Regions from separate parts of the Homo sapiens genome. Here region 1 is linked to region 2. Evidence: fine-mapped expression QTL. Tissue or cell type: whole blood. Region 2 holds a variant in brackets; the other region holds the start of a gene. All regions are shown on one strand. Distances are between the middles of the regions.

The links. PIP is the estimated chance that this variant, and not a neighbour inherited with it, causes the effect.
Region 1: it holds the start of CACNA1H, and the variant in region 2 is fine-mapped to the expression of CACNA1H in whole blood (TOPMed, PIP 0.91).

The regions. Positions count from the first base shown.
Region 1 is chr16:1,148,842-1,156,841 of GRCh38, reverse strand. CACNA1H (calcium voltage-gated channel subunit alpha1 H) reads right to left here and starts at 3,736. Exons shown (of 35, transcript NM_021098.3): 1 at 3,372-3,736; 2 at 2,806-3,122. The coding sequence starts at 3,104. RefSeq lists enhancers at 2,115-2,882, 4,257-4,837.
Region 2 is chr16:1,258,767-1,266,766 of GRCh38, reverse strand. TPSD1 (tryptase delta 1) reads right to left here. Exons shown (of 5, transcript NM_012217.3): 5 at 7,759-8,000. It also overlaps the pseudogene PRSS29P. Among named protein-coding and RNA genes, the nearest start is that of TPSD1, 6.7 kb to the right of the region's middle. The variant T/C (reference allele first, on the strand shown) is at 3,769.

The DNA.
Region 1 (8,000 bases), 110 kb after region 2:
TACCCCGGGGTTCAGGAGAGGTTCAGGGATAAACGCGGGCCCTCCCCCAGGTTCCTGTGCTGACTGAACCCCGGCTCAGGCTGGGCCCGGCGGACAGCAGCTGGGGCTCTGCCAACCCCCGGGAGCATGGAGTCACTTTACTGAGTGTGGGTTCCCTGAGCAAATCCGATTATCCCTCCCTCTCAGAGTTCACCCTCTTCAGGAGGGATGCGGGGCCCTGCGGAGGGAGGGGAGGCTGAGGCCCAGGAAGCACCCTCTTGCTACGGGACACACCCCAGCCACACCAGTCGCCCACCGCCCCTGCCGCCTCCTGCAAAGCCTCCCCCTCCCAACTCCCAGGAATCTGAAGCGCTCTGGAAAGCCTCAGCCATGGCCCACATGGGCTTCCCCGGCTCAGCCAATCCCCCCACCTGTCCAGGCCTGCCAGCTTATTTTAGGTTCTCTCTGACGCCAGGACACACACCCTCGCTACAGGCCAGGCATCTGCTGGTGGTCACACCCACCCCCATGCAGCCGGGGCCTCCACAAGCCCACTCCACCTGACCGACGGGCGTTTCCACGGGGCCAAGAATGAACCAAGCTTGGGGTCTAAGCTCTGCTTCCCATGTCTCCTGGAGTGGGGACACCCCCCATCACTGCGTTTGGAGCTGGGAGAGCCAAAGCGTGCCAGAGGTGCTGGCGGCGAGGAGGGTGGGGGGTCCTGCCGTGCCGCAGGCAGACCCAGTGCTCCAAGCAAGGGATGCCATCGAAGGGCAGGAGGCCGACCACCCATTCTCTCCCAGCCCAGAGAGCCCTGGGGACACCAGGGATGGGGCATGCTCTGTTCTTCCCAGGCTGAGAGCACCATCCAGCCCCCGAGACCAGGACAGCACCCAAGTCCCTCTCGGGCTACCAGAGCATACTCCTGTCAGGTCACAAAGCCCAAAAGGACAGCTCCTCAGGACACCGGGGGACAGCGCTTGGGTCACGTGATGCCGCTGGCCCCAGCCCTCCTCTCCCCCTGGAGAGCTCATCCCACCTGCATGAGGCCACCCAGCCAACACCTTCCCTGCACACAGCAACGCAAACAACCTCCTTGGAAGTCCTGAGACACACAGCCAGCCCAGAACACCGGGGCCAGGCTCCAAAACTCTCTCAGCCGAGAGGGGACAGGACAGCCAGGCCCGGGGCTGTGAAGAGAGTCCATGCCCTGCTTGGGGATGGGGCAGCCAGGCCCGGGGCTGTGAGGAGAGAGTCCAGGCTTGCTCAACTCTTTCCCTTCTCCGGTCTGCACACGTTGGGAAACAAGGAACGCAGGCCTTGGCTCGGGGCCAGCCTCCCATTCCAACCCATGCAGTCCCTTCCAGACCCTTCCCCATGGCCTGCTGGCACCGCCGGACTAACCCCACACCCAGTCACCTCCTACCAGAACAAAGGGGCATGACCACCTCCCGCCTTGGTTCTAGAGAGGAGACAAACCTACAACCGCTCTTCAAGGCCGGGCCTGCACCTCGGCTCCCGGGGACACCCACCTACTCGCAGACACCACCCTGAGGCTACAGAGGCCTAGGCCGCCCGGGCAGCGGGTGTGGGGCTCCGAGGCAGCCCTCTGGCCGGGGCCGGCTGCCCCCGGGACCACAGCAGCCTCCTCTTCCTCTACAAGCAGAGATGAGTCTGACTCACTCGATGTTTGGATTTGAGAAAGGAGAAACACGGGCTTTATGACTTTTTTTGTACAGATTCCTCTTTCGTGTTTAATATTTGTACAGTTAAACACACAAGGTAGGGAAGTGTACACAGGCCGCTCCTGCTGCCAGCCTGTCTCCCCACCTCCGACGGGGGACGTCTGCGGGCAGGGTCTCTCCACCCGTCCCCAGGCCCGGAGCAGAAGCCACGGCCTGGCCACCCCAGCTGCCGGCTCAGAAGGGCCGGTGGGGAGACCCGGCCCTGACACAGGCACCACGCAAGGCCCTTCTCAGGGCACGCGGAGACCCGCCCCCAAGGCCACCTGCTGGGGGGCCCCCTGGACCTCCGTGTACATCCCACAAATGCCCCTGGCCCTGACCCAACTCTGTTCTGGAACCTTCTCTGCAGTCTGTGCCGCTCTGGCCGAGAGTAGAAGAGGCTGCCTCTTCCTCTCCAGCCAGGGAAGGGGCTGGGGAGATGAGACTCCCCCTTGGCAGTGCCAATTGCCTCCCTGCCCCCTACCCTTCAGCTGCGCATGACTTAAGTCAGCCCCGCCACCGAGTTCAGCCAGAAAAAGCGAGTTCACAACCAACGTCACCGCCTCTCTCCACGGAAAAGGCCCTGGCGGCGCTCACAGGCCCCACGGGTCTCCCCACGCACTCGGAACCACCAGGCGCCGGCTGAAAACTTTGCGCCCCTGACTCCAGCTCCTCTGGCCTCCCCCTCCCCCGCGAGGGGCCTGCCTCGGGCAGGACCTTCAGACAGTGAGGGGTGGGCAAGGGGGAAATTCCCGTCCTGGCCAACACCCTTGGGGCCGCGAGGAGTTAGGACCTTCCCTCCCTCCCCGACTCCTCTCCCCTCCAAGCCCGCGGGGGCCTCACCGCTTCGCTTCCACCTTCTCCGTCCGGAGCCGGCCCTGGGGAAGGGAGTCCGGAGGCGCCCGGTGGCCCCCCAAGCCCGCCACTCTCAGAAATTAGAGCGCGGTCCTCCAGCCCCTGCCCTGCACCCCCGCGCGCCCGGCCCACGCCAGGTCCCACCAACAGGGGCGCGCGGGGGCGCATGCCGAGGGAGTCCCGCGCCCCGGGCCCCCACCCTCCCCACGCCCCCCGCCCCCCGCCCCCCGCCGGCCGGGAAGGATATGGGTTGCAGACCAGCCGGAGGCACCAGCTGCGCGGCCGCGTGGTCTGACCGAGGCAGAAGAAGACCGTGGCCGCCAAGGCCGGGTACGGGACGCGCTGCTCCTCGTCGGCACCCAGCTCCGCGCCGCGCTCGGCCGCCGGGCTCTCGGAGGGTGACACGCCGAGCTCGGACCCCCGCTCCGCCTCGCGTCCCGGCGCCCCGGGGCTCTCCGGGGACGCCCCCACCAACGCCGCAGGGCCAGGGGGCGGCGCGCCCAGGGGCACCCGGACCTCGTCGGCGGCCCGTGCGCCCTCGGTCATGGTGGCGGCCGGCAGCACCTGCAGAGGACAGGGGGTGACCCGGGGCCGGTGGCGACGCCCCCGCCCTGCCTCCCGCGGCGCGGAGCTGCGGGAACAGCCGCGGCCGCCGGGATGTCTTTGTCTTTTCTTATTAGAGACAAACGCGCCCCCCGCCCCCGCCCGCCCCCTCCCTCCCTCCAGCGGCCCCACCCCCACCCCGAGGGGCTCCCCGGCCCGCTTCGCGCAAGTTGAAGAGGGTCCCGGGCGCGCGTCCTCGCCGCGTCTCACCTCGCTCTGCTGGCCGGCGGCGTCCCCGCGGGCATCGCCCGGGCGGCGCGGTCACCGCGGACCCCGCTCGGCGCCCGGCCCCGGCCCCGGCCCCCAGCGCCTCCGCCCCCGGCCCCGGCCCCGGCCCCCAGCGCCTCCGCCCCCGGCCCGCGTCCCCAGCCCGCCCGGCTCCCGGCCGCGGCTCGACTCCGGCTCCGGCTCGCCCGGCGGAGGCGACGGCGGCGGCCTCGGCGCGGCGTGGAGGCCGCTGAGCGGACGGGTGAGGCCGGGGCGCGGGGCGCGGGGCGCGGGGCGCGGGCCGGGGACCGGTGAGGCAGCGAGCGAGCCTCGAGCCCGTCCGCGCGCGGCGCAGGAAACTTCGGGCTGAGCGGCGGGGGGCGGGGCGGGGCGGGGCCGGCGCGACCGGGGCGGGGCCAGCGTGGCCGGGGCGGGGCCGGGGGCGGGGCGGGCGGGGGGGTACTGGGGAGGATCCGCCCCCGGCCCGAGACGCGCGCGCCCGAGCGACCCCTCCCTGTCGCCGCCCGGCGCCCCGCCCCCCCCCGGGTGCGGGAAGTTGGACCCCGCCCGCGCCCCCTCCACGCCCCCGCACTGGGCTCCCCGCTTTTCGTGCTCCCCAACAATGCCGGGCGTGGGGTGCACCAGGGGGCGCTCGCGGGAGGCTCCGGCGGGGTGGGAGGGGGAGCACCTACGTCCTTCCCTGCCCCCAACTGCGGGGGCGGCCGAGCCGCCGATGCCGCGCCCCTCCCCCTCCCGCTCCGGCTCCCCCTCCCCCTTCGCGCTGCCGCGCGCGCCGCCGCCGCCCCCACCCCCACCCCCACTACGACGCGGGCCCGGGTCGGCGGAGGGGCGGGGACCGGGCGGGCGTGGAAGGCGAGAGGCTGCGTGCCCCTTCCCCGCCGCGTGTGTGTCCCGGGTGTGCCCGCGCGCGCGTGTGTGATGGGGCGCGGGGGCGGGCGGGGGTGTGCTTTACGGCTGGGCGCTCCTGCACTCGCATCTCTCCCCGACACGCACGGGCAGTTTCCGCGAACTTGTCCTCGTCTCCGGTCCCCTCCCGCGTGGGGATCTGGGGGACCCTGGGGACGGCAGCCTGGTGCTCCTGCATCCTCCAACCCCGCTGCCTCAGCGAGACTCACCCAGGGGCCCCCGAGGAGAAGTGCAGGCCCCTTCCCCCTGCCAGCAGCTGCTCCTTCAGCCAGGCCAGCAGAAGGGCCTTCCCCTGGACCCTCAGAGCAAGTGGTTTGGTCGGGAAGGGGTGGACCCTTCAGACATTGGGGATGGCCAGGCCCTTGTCCCAGGGAGGGCTGGCCGCACCTCGAGGTGCCAGCAGGTGGGGGCAGGTGCCCAGGCTCCTGACTCCCCCCAGGGCACCCCTCCAGGCTGGAAGGGTGGTTTTGCTTCTGGGACCACTGCTTTGTGCACCAGGGAGCTTGAGCTCCCAGGTGTGCACCTCAGCACGCCCGCCAACAAGGGGCCCCTGGTAGTGGGAGAGACCCCTTCTCCCTCCAGACAAAGAGGCCCTGCTCCAGGGCGCACCCTGAGACCCCAGACCCGGAGAGGCTGTGGGGCGGCTGTGGCTTCCCACCTGCGGGTGAGCAGCAGAGAAGCAGGACCTCCCCCGGGTGGGCCACATCGTGCAGGGTGAAGAAGAGGCCCTGCCCAGCTGGGGCCCGGAAGGACACACAGCACCTGGGGTGGGCCGAGGAACTGGAAGGCAGGAGTGTGGGGGCCTGGCTGGGGTACAGGTCCTTTCAGCAGCACCTCCTCCTGTATACGGGAACTTTCAAGAAAAGGAAAACATTCAGTCTATTTTAATGCAACTACTCAGCGATGGAGGGCCACAGCTGGTGAATTAGGCCTTCAAAGGTCCAATTAAGGTTCCAGCCACAGAGGAGCAGGACCTAGGAGAGCCCCGTGCTTTGGACACATCCGTGGAGGGAGGCTGGAGCAGGTGGGGAGACACAAACGCTGAATCGGAGTCCGGTCCAGAGGGCACTTGGAACCTCTGATCTTTTTATCAACACCCTGCTCGTTAAAAGTTAGGGTGGGCCAGGTGCAGTGGCTCACGCCTGTAATCCCAGCACTTTGGGAGGCCGAGGTGTGTGGATCACTTGAGGTCAGGAGTTCGAGACCAGCCTGACCAACATGGTGAAATCCCGTCTCTACTAAAATACAAAAATTAGCCAGGCATGGTGACATATGCCTGTAATCCCCGCTACTCGGGATGCTGAGGGAGGAGAATCACTTGAACCCAGGAGGCAGAGGTTGCAGTGAGCCGAGATCACGCCACTGCACTCCAGCCTGGGTGACAGAGTGGACTCTGCCTCAAAAAAATAATAAGTTAATTAATTAATTAATTAAAGCTAAGGCAAAGCCACAGACTGAAGCTCCAGATTCTAGCTGGGGGCTGTCGTTGATTTGCTGGACAAATGGTAGTTGAGGGTGGACAGTGCGCGGGGCCCGGTTGGAGGGTGGAGGTGCCTTGGCTGTGACCAGACAGACCCGGTTCTCATGCCTGCAGCTTCCGTCTTATGGGGAGGAGAAAACAGTTTCCAAACTAAGTGCCAGGGGGCGCCCAGATAGACGAGGGCGGGGCCTCTGTGAGGACAAGCCGGCAGCCGGAAGAGGAGCAGAGGCTCTTTCCAGCAGCAACGGCAGCCCATGCAAAGGCCCTGTGGCAGGCCGGAGGGAGCCGGGGAGCGGGAAGACCCAGAGGGCGCCTGGGAAGCATCTTGGAATTCTGAACACAGCAGCTGTTGCCCTCCCGGCCACACTCTGTCCTCCAGATGTCGGCAGAAGGGAAAAAGACCACGGACTTCTATAACAGACTTTTTTTTTTTTTTTTTTTTGAGACATAGTTTCGCTCTGTATCACAGGCTGGAGTGTAGTGGCGTGATCTCGGCTCACTGCAAACTCCGCCTCCTGGTGTCAGTTCAAGCGATTCTCCTGCCTCAGCCTCCCGTGTAGCTGGGATTACAGGCATGTAATTACCATGCCCAGCTAATTTTCATATTTTTAGAAGAGACGGGGTTTTGCCATGTTGGCCAGGCTGGTCTTGAACTCCTGACCTCGTGATCCGCCTGCCTCAGACTCTGAAAGTATGGGGATTACAGGCGTAAGTCACCGCGCCCGGCCCACAGATTTTTTTTAAAGAAAGTGTCTGTAATCTGAGAAAGCGTGCAGTCGCCAGGCATCCCACGGACAATTTGCAGACCAGTTGGAGCCTCTCCAGCACCCGGGCGGGCATTTTCCAGCTCAAGGTCTGGGACGGAGGCTGCCTCCCACCGCTTTCCGTTCACTCCAGCCCATCGGATGGCGTGCCCACCTTGTCCTTGGGGGCTCTGTGTCCCCTGGGCTGCTGCCCACTGACTTGCACGCTCCACGTCCGGCGGGACAGGTGCCCGCACGCCTGGAACATGGATGCTCCCTGCTCTGAACATCCATCTGCCGGAAGATGAGGCAGCTGAGGCCGCGTTCACGCAGCCGGAGCGGGGACCACCTCAACGCGACGTGAGGGCCTCCACCGAGAAAGGACATAAACGGCAGACGGTCCAGTGAGACGAGACGGGAAATCGTCCTGAGAGCGGTGATGCCGTGATGCGCGCCCTTCGCTGAGCGTCAGAGAGAAGCCCAGGACGGTTGGAAACCGGCATTGAGATGGTTTAATTCAACTCCAGAACGTTCAGATGTATTGTTTCTAATCCTCCAGGTCTCTGGAAAATTTGCTTCTGGTTTTCGCTGTTTCCTTTTTTCTTTTTTTGGCCGGGGTTGTTTTTAAGGGCAATGCTTTTCTTTGACAAAGAGCTGCGGGGAGAGAGTACAAGTGACCTCCTAGCTCAGCCATCATGTGGCGGAACCCAAGAAGGTGGGGTGGGCTTCTCGGGGTCTCCCACGGATTTCAGCATCCCCCACGCTGCCCAGGGGAAGGAGGACGTCGGCAGTGGGGCCCGGCATGGCAGCGATGGGACAGGCACGCCCTGACTGGTCCTCAGCTCCCTGTAGCAGTGGGGCCCGTGGCTGGTCTGCCAGAATCTGGACCAAGGGCTGGTGGACAGAGTCCTCTCCTGGCAAAGCCTGGAGAGCCAGCCGTGGCGGTCACTGCCTGGTGTCCAGTGAGACCCCTTCTCCCAGCCAGCTCTGGGTTCTGCTGCTACGTGTGGCCTGTGAGCCGGGGACCCAGGTCACCGCCACCAAGGAGGCTGCCCACGCGGCCAGGAAGCCAGGCCCCGGGAATATGCAGACAAGAGGGGCGTCCCTGCCTAGACTGGCCCCTGCAGGGATCGGCCTCCAGGGCAGGCAACAGGGCCTCTCACTGACACAGGCTCGGGCCCTGCCTGGCCAGAATGCTTCTTCCCTGGGAGCAGCCTCGGTGGGGCCCCATTGAGCCGCAGACTCAAGGGCAGGACGGAGCCCGGTAGGTCGCCCCGAAGCATGGCGGGCTCTCACCTTTGTCCTGCCATGGAGTCAGAGACACGAGACCCTGGAGTGGGGAGCAGGTGAGTGTCCTTTGCTCCTGCCTAGCATCCAGTAGGTGCCAATAAATACCTGCTGACTGGGTGGCTGAAGGGACTGCGCTGGCATCCCAAGGAATTTTGGGATCCACCACCCTCGAGACCGTGCTGGGCGGGAAGC
Region 2 (8,000 bases):
AGGCTTGGAGGGAGGGGCCGCTCCATGCCTGTCTCCTCGTGTCCGGCGCTGCTGGCTGTCCTTGGCTTGCAGCCACATCACTCCCATCCCTGCCTGCCTTCCCCGGCCTTCCTCCACCGCTCTAGGTCTCAGGCCCCCTCTCCTTTCTCTTATAAGGATGCCTGTCATTGGATTTAGGGCCCACTCTAATTCCAGAATGATCTCATCTTGACATCCTCAATTACGTCTGCAAAAGCCTCATTTCGGAATCAAGTGACGTTCACAGTTCCTGGGGCTCAGGCTTGAACGTATCTTTTCGGCAAATGCAGTTCAACTCACCACTGCACCCGGCTCCTGACCCCGGAGGTATTTTCCTCCTTCACCTGCACGTCCTGTAGGAGCCTCCCTGTGCAGACACAGCACTGGGCAACTTGTAGAACCTTCTCCACACAACAATGCCCAATTTTGGCCGACCTCACATCTGATTCCAAGTATAAAGCACCGAATAAAAGATAAAAGGAAAGTGTCACCTGCATCCTCCACGTGAGAATCCGACGTTCCTGTCTCTGCACAGGGCGAGCTTGGCTCACCCAACCTGGACTCGGCTGGGGCCCAAGGGCTCCTTGGCCTCTCCCGGGCAAGCTTGGTTCACCCAACCTGGACTCAGCTGGGGCTCGAGGGGTCCTCGGCCTCTCCCCCAGCCCCCCGCAGCCCAGGACCCCTGACTGTAGGCTCCAGGCCTCCCTGGAAGCCCTGGCCACGCTCGCCCCGCAGCCCTCAGACTGGCTGTGCTTCGCGGATCTTGGCTGGTTCGAGGCTGGTGCCGTCCCCGCCTTACCTGGGCCTCCTGGACCCTGCCTCCCGGCAGCTGGGTGGGGGACCAGGAGAGTCCTGCACCCGTGACGCAGCTGCCACATTATCCTCGTGTCCCGGGAGGGAGAGGAATCACCAAGAAAGCCCCCAGGCTAAGCAGCTGTCCTCTCTTCTCCTCGGCCCTCTGGCTCTAAACAAGGAACCCAGGTGATCCAGACCCGAGCTTCCCTCCCATCAGCCTCTCCTGGCCTCACCTGGCTGGCCTCCCAGCCCTCCCATCCTCCAGCTGCTCTCCTGTCTCCTTCTTGCATCTTCAGATGGAGCTGCCCACTCCATGGGCCTGGGCAGCAGCTTGAAGTGGGCGTGGGCCAAGCCCTCTGGGAGTGAGGGGTGCAGCGGCTCCCAAGGCACAGAGCCAGAGGTCCTGGCCCATGATGGGTGAATGCGGCCAGGAGGGAGGGACGGGGCAGCTGGGAGTCCATCTCGGGCAGCCTGGGGCTTCTCTCCTCCCCATGCAGGGAGGTGCAGGGCTGGGCATGCAGGTGGAAGTCTGGCTGCAGAGGATTTCACAGCTGCAGGCCCAGCCTCGGGGACCCACTCCCTCAGCCTCCGGGGAATCCTGAGGCATCACCAGGAAGCTGCTGGTAGCATGGAGAAGGCTGGATTTGCTCCAGCTGGAGGACATGCGGGCACACACACACACTCATACACGCATGCACACACACATGCACACGCACAATGTACAAACTCAATGCACACTCACTCATACATGCATGCACACACATACACGCATGCACACACTGATGCATGCACACATGCACACACATGCGTGCACACACATACATGCACACACGCACACATGCACTCATACTCACAAGCATGCACACACATGCATGCAGACACACACTCATACACACATGCATATGCACACATATGCACACACTCATACATGCACACACATGCACACATCACGTATGCACATGCTTACATGCACACATTCATACACACATGCACACACACATTCACATGCACGCACACACATGCTTTCAAACATGCACGCACTTTCATACTCACATGCACACACACGCACATGCGCACACTCATACACATGCACACACATACATGCATGCACACACATGCTTACATGCACACATGCACACTCATACGCACACACAGGCACACAAACACATGCAAACTGACGCGCACACACGCACACATCCTTACATATGCACACGCATACACACATGCACACACTCATACACGCACACACACACTCATACACGCATGCACACACCCACACTTACACACATGCTTACACTTATACTCACACACATGCAAACACACGCACACACACGCAAACACAAACAGCAGCATGCACACACTCATACACACATGCACACACACATATACACACGCACACACCCATATACACACTCATACACACACACTCGTACACACATGCACACACTCATACATGCAGGCACACACACATCCACACATACATGCACACATGCATGCACACACATGCTCACACACACACATGCACACTCACATGCTTACACACATGCACACACTTATACTCACACATGCACACACATACATGCACACAGAGGCATGTGCACACCCCATGCCCACACACGTATGCACACACACACAGGCACCCCCCACACCCCCACCCATTCACAGTGCTCCCTTGTGTTCCCACACCACCACAATCACCCTGGTTACAATCTCATGGCAAAGCAAGACTTCTGGAGGAGAGGCTGTAGGGTTGGGCCTCGGCCTCTGCTGCCCCTGTCAGCCCCAGAACGTGTCTGCCACCTGGGCTGAAACAGGCATTTGCTGCCGGAGCCCCAAGGCACAGCAGTGGGCAGCTGGGGCCCAGGGGGCTGGGCCCTGGCCTGAGAATGCAGCTCCCCACCCTCTGAGACTCCCAGCAGGTGACGGCCCCTCTCCCAGAGCAGAGTGTGCCCCTCCTGCAACCTGAGGTTTGTACTGATTAAAACAGGTTCCTGGAGCCCATCCAGAAGATCTCCCTGTGTGGGCTCCACAAACTCCCTCCAAGGACTGGAGCCTGGGCCTGGGGCGGCCACCATGGAGCAGGCGGGTCCCCTGGCCCAGGCTCCAAGTGCCTCTGGCAGGCCCTCTGGCTGATACTTTTGCACCCGTGGAGGTGTGTACAAGTGCCCGTCCCGTCCCGGGTGGCAGGAGAGGCTGCGGGAGAGCTGGTTACTAGGTGCTTCCTTGGCCTCTGTGGCACTGGCCATGAGAATGGGTAGCATGGCGACAACCTGAGCACTGTGGGCATTTGGGGCCAGGGGCCCTCTGCAGTGGGGCCATCCTGTGCACCGTAGACATTTAGCCCCCCAACCCCGGCCTCTTCCCACTAGATGTGGGTGGTGTCCCTATATCCCTGACAAGCATAAATGTCCCCTGGGGGACATAGTCACCCGTGGGAGCCACTGGTGTAGACAGGGAACCCGGGTACAGGACCTCTGTTGGCCCAGCAGAGGGGATGCGAGGGGCTGGGGGTGGCCCCTATCCTCATGGTCACCCTGTTTACAGCCTGGGCTAGGAGCTATTGCCCCCACCCTGGGAAAAGAATGTCTGACTGAGCCCCACCCACTTCCTTTGCAAGGAAGAGAAAGCAGCTCCGGGAGGGTCCGGGAGGGCAGCTGTGGCCACAGACCACGGTGAGGACACTGACCACCGGCAGCCACCTGTGGCCTCCAGACCCAGGTCCCTCCTGGCTCTTTCCAGCCAGCCCTCTCCTCCCTGCGCAGATGCTGTGGCTGCTATTCCTGACCCTCCCCTGCCTGGGGGGGCTCCATGTCCAAGACCCCAGGTGACTCCTGGCCCAATCCCACACTGGACCCTCAGGGACTGGGCTAGGACGGAGAGCTGACCCCCTCGTCGAGCAGGGCCTGGAAGCTCCTGGCATTGCAGGAGGGTGGGGCCCGGCTCCCTGACCTCCTT[T/C]GGTTGTTCCCAGTGCCCGTCCCAGAGAATGACCTGGTGGGCATTGTGGGGGGCCACAATGCCCCCCCGGGGAAGTGGCCGTGGCAGGTCAGCCTGAGGGTCTACAGCTACCACTGGGCCTCCTGGGCGCACATCTGTGGGGGCTCCCTCATCCACCCCCAGTGGGTGCTGACTGCTGCCCACTGCATTTTCTGGTGAGTCCCGGGCCTGGGACCCCAATGAGGGGAGGTGGGAGTGGGGCCGCCCCAGACCAGGACCCCTGAGCAGCCTGGATCCGTCCTCCCCCAGGAAGGACACCGACCCGTCCATCTACCGGATCCACGCTGGGGACGTGTATCTCTACGGGGGCCGGGGGCTGCTGAACGTCAGCCGGATCATCGTCCACCCCAACTATGTCACTGCGGGGCTGGGTGCGGATGTGGCCCTGCTCCAGCTGGTGAGCCCCATGATCTGAGCCGCTAATGTCAGGACGGTCAAGCTCTCCCCGGTCTCGCTGGAGCTCACCCCGAAGGACCAGTGCTGGGTGACTGGCTGGGGAGCGATCAGGATGTTCGGGGCGTGTTGGGTGGAGGCTGGGGAAGGACTCGGGCTGTGGGCCCAAAACGCCTCATTCCAGGGCTCCGGGGGTGGTGGTGGGGTGGGTGAGTTCCAGAAAGGGAAGAGACGGAGCTGCTCACCGCCATGCAGCACCTCCGGCTGCTTTTCCCCACAGCTCTGTGCTGCCCGGGCCCAGAGACTCGGGGGTCCTGCGAGTGCCAATGGCCACACCAAGCTCCAGACTCATTATTCAGAGGGGAAAATACTTCTCATTTTTTTCTACTTAGGAAAGGTTTTTAAATTTTTTTGCTGGGTGCGGTGGCTCACACCTGTGATCCCAGCACTTTGGGAGGCAGAGGCAGGAGAATGGCTTGAGCCGGGGAGTTTGAGGCCAGCCTGGGCAACATAGCAAGACCCCATCTCTAAAAAAGAAAAGAAAAGAAAAAACACCGCAAACGAAAACACCTCAAAACCAAAAGGCATTTTTTGGAGGAAAAAAAACAGAAAAACTCATCCCTCCACTTTTCTCTGGTCCGTCCGACTGCGAGCCCTGGGAGTTTAGAGGGAGACACGAGCCCTCCCACCTCCTGGGGTCCCACACACCGTGCTCAGGCTGGGAGGTTCAGGCCGGGACTAGGGGCCCTTGGCCACAAGGGAGCCACCTTCCTTCCCAACCTGGGGAGGTGCTGGGGCTGCTGGGTTGACGGCAGGGGCGTCTCCGCTGTGCCAGCCGGGGTCACCTCTCTCCCCAGAGTCGCTGCCGCCGCCCTACCGCCTGCAGCAGGCGAGTGTGCAGGTGCTGGAGAACGCCGTCTGTGAGCAGCCCTACCGCAACGCCTCAGGGCACACTGGCGACCGGCAGCTCATCCTGGATGACATGCTGTGTGCCGGCAGCGAGGGCCGAGACTCCTGCTACGTGAGTGCCCCCGGCCCGCCCTGCCTGCCTGCCCTGCTCCCACCGCAGAGCTCAGCGGTGACCCCTTTCCTTCCCTTCCTCAGGGTGACTCCGGCGGCCCTCTGGTCTGCAGGCTGCGGGGGTCCTGGCGCCTGGTGGGGGTGGTCAGCTGGGGCTACGGCTGTACCCTGCGGGACTTTCCCGGCGTCTACACCCACGTCCAGATCTACGTGCTCTGGATCCTGCAGCAAGTCGGGGAGTTGCCCTGAGCAGGCTGGGCTGGGCTCCCACCTGGGTCGGCTGAGGAGGGACCAGGACCTTCCTCCTCCCAGCGATCTCCGCTTCGGCCTCCGCTGCAGGCCACCGTCTTGAGCCCGGCTTCTCTGGCTCCTCAGCGCCCAGGACCTCCCTGATGCCGGGGTGGGGAAGGGGCCGGGGAAGGGAGGGTGGGGGCCTCGCTGCGTCTCTGTCTGATTAAAGAGCAAGAGCAGAGTGTGTGGCGTCTCTGTGGGATGGATTTGCATTCCAAGCTGCAGCCAGGTGCGGTTTGCTCAGCCACCTCCTGTTGGAGGCCTCCACATTTTGGCTATGGTAATAAAGATGCTGAGAACATTCATGCTCCGGGCTCTGTGTGGACGTGCGTCTCTGGGCTCTGTGTAGACGTGCGTCTCCGGGCTGTGTGTGGACGTGGGTCTCCGGGCTCTGTGTGGACGTGCGTCTCCGGGCTGTGTGTGGACGTGGGTCTCCGGGCTCTGTGTGGACATGCGTCTCCGGGCTCTGTGTGGACGTGCGTCTCTGGGCTCTATGTGGACGTGGGTCTCCGGGCTGTGTGTGGATGTGGGTCTCCGGGCTGTGTGTGGACGTGGGTCTCCGGGCTCTGTGTGGACGTGCGTCTCCGGGCTCTGTGTGGAAGTGTGTTTCCTGTCCTCTGGGGGCGACACTCACAGGTGCTGCTTCAATGCCAGGTTCCAGATGAGGAAACCGAGGCAGGAAAGTCACCGGAGATGGAGGCGCAGTGGGTTGGGGCTCGGGGGACCCAGGCCGGCACGCTGCACGCTGCTCCTGTGCTGGGGCCTCCGCGTCCCCGGGCCCTGGCCTCCCAGGGCAGTGGTTAGGTTTAGATTCCTGCCCCGACTCCCTCCTGTACCGGGCGACGCCATGGGTCCCAGAGCTCAGACACCACCACGCAGGGCGAGACGGGAGTGGACGGCCGCGAGAGGCCCAGCCTCCGCATGGGGTGCCTTCCTGGGGCGCTTCCTCTAAGGGCCAGGCCAGTGTGGGCAGGGAGAGCAGTGCTCTGAGGGGCAGGCGACGCCCAGAACGGCCCCGTCCCTCCTCCGCCCCGTGTTCATTCTGCACCTGGACCAGGCAGACTCAGCGCCCAGACCCCAGGCTGCAGGTCAATGTGTGGTTCTGGCGTCCGCTCCCCCGGGCCCCCAAAACCAGGGGCTTCCTCCTCTGCCCCTGTGCTTTCGGGACCTCTGCAGGGCAGAGAAGAGGTGGAAGGTCAAAAGGGAGGGTCTGGGGAGGCTCCTGGCTCCTCCGCAGAAGTTTCTGCAGGTGAGCGGCTCGGGGACTGGCCTTCACCCTCCCACCTGCCCTCGCCCGCCCTGCCTGTCACTCCCGGGGATGAGGGTCGGGAGGATCCCCACAGGGCAAGGGCTTCAGGGCAAACCCAGGCTCTGAGCCTCCGCGCAGAAACCACATCTGGGTTTATACTTTCTCCCACGCCCCTGGTCTTTCCAGAGTGGGGCAGAGCAGAGCAGTTGGGGCGCCCCAGCTGGGGGAGTCACTGCACTTCAAGGCAGTGGGGGAAAGACTCCCGGGGTGTGGACGGGTAGGGCACTGCCCTTTCTTTCCCGGGGAGCTGGCTGCCTCTGACACTCCTCATGCTTCCCTTCCTGGGAGAAAGCGGGGAGCCCCAGGCCAGGTTGCCGGCTGCTCTAAACCCAGGGTGAGACCTGCTGGACACAGCCCAGGGCCTCAGGGGACGTGACCACAGCCCGCGTCCCAGGGCGCTCTCGGCGGGGGTCCAGGGTCCAGCTGCACCCCGCCACCTCCCAGGGGGCTCCTGGGTCTCCCACACTGCCCTGGCTCCCTGGGCTTTCTAAGACAGGCAGCGGGCAGTGATCAGTGCCATTCCCAAGTCCTCCGAGCCACGTCCCCGCCCAGCCGGACCCCGCTGGACCCTGCTCTGCCCTGGCAGCGTTCAGAGTCCCTCCCTTGCAGCCCCTGATCTGTGCGACTCACAGGACACCAAGACCCAGACGGGAAGCCGAGCACTCACACCCTCAGTGCGGCCACGGCAGGCTTCCGTGTTTGACGGAGAAATCACCTCCCGCTGCCGGGAGGAGACCGAAATTAATTGCTCCTCCTCCAAACCGGGAGCCACCTGTGCCCCCACTCGCCGACCAGGGCAGCTGAGGAGGCCCCACCCCACAGTGACTAGTTGTGCCTCGGGGTCCAGGACCCCGCAGCTCCTGCAGCTGCCCCGAGACATGCCTAGACCCTTCCTCCCCCGTGACACCCACGACCAGAAACACAGTGACGGCCACACCTGCTTTCCATCATGCACTTTAATGAGAGTCAGCACTAGAGAGGATGGGCGTCCACCACCAGCTGCCTGGGCAGGGGAGGGCCGGAGGGGCCGGGAGGGGCGGATTCAGGGTTGGGGAGGAGGCTCAGGATGGAGGAGGGGGCAGGATGGAGGAGGGGGCTCAGGATGGAGGAGGGGCTCAAGAAAGGGGAGGGGGCTCAGGATGGAGGAGGGACTCAAGAAAGGGGAGGGGGCTCAGGATGG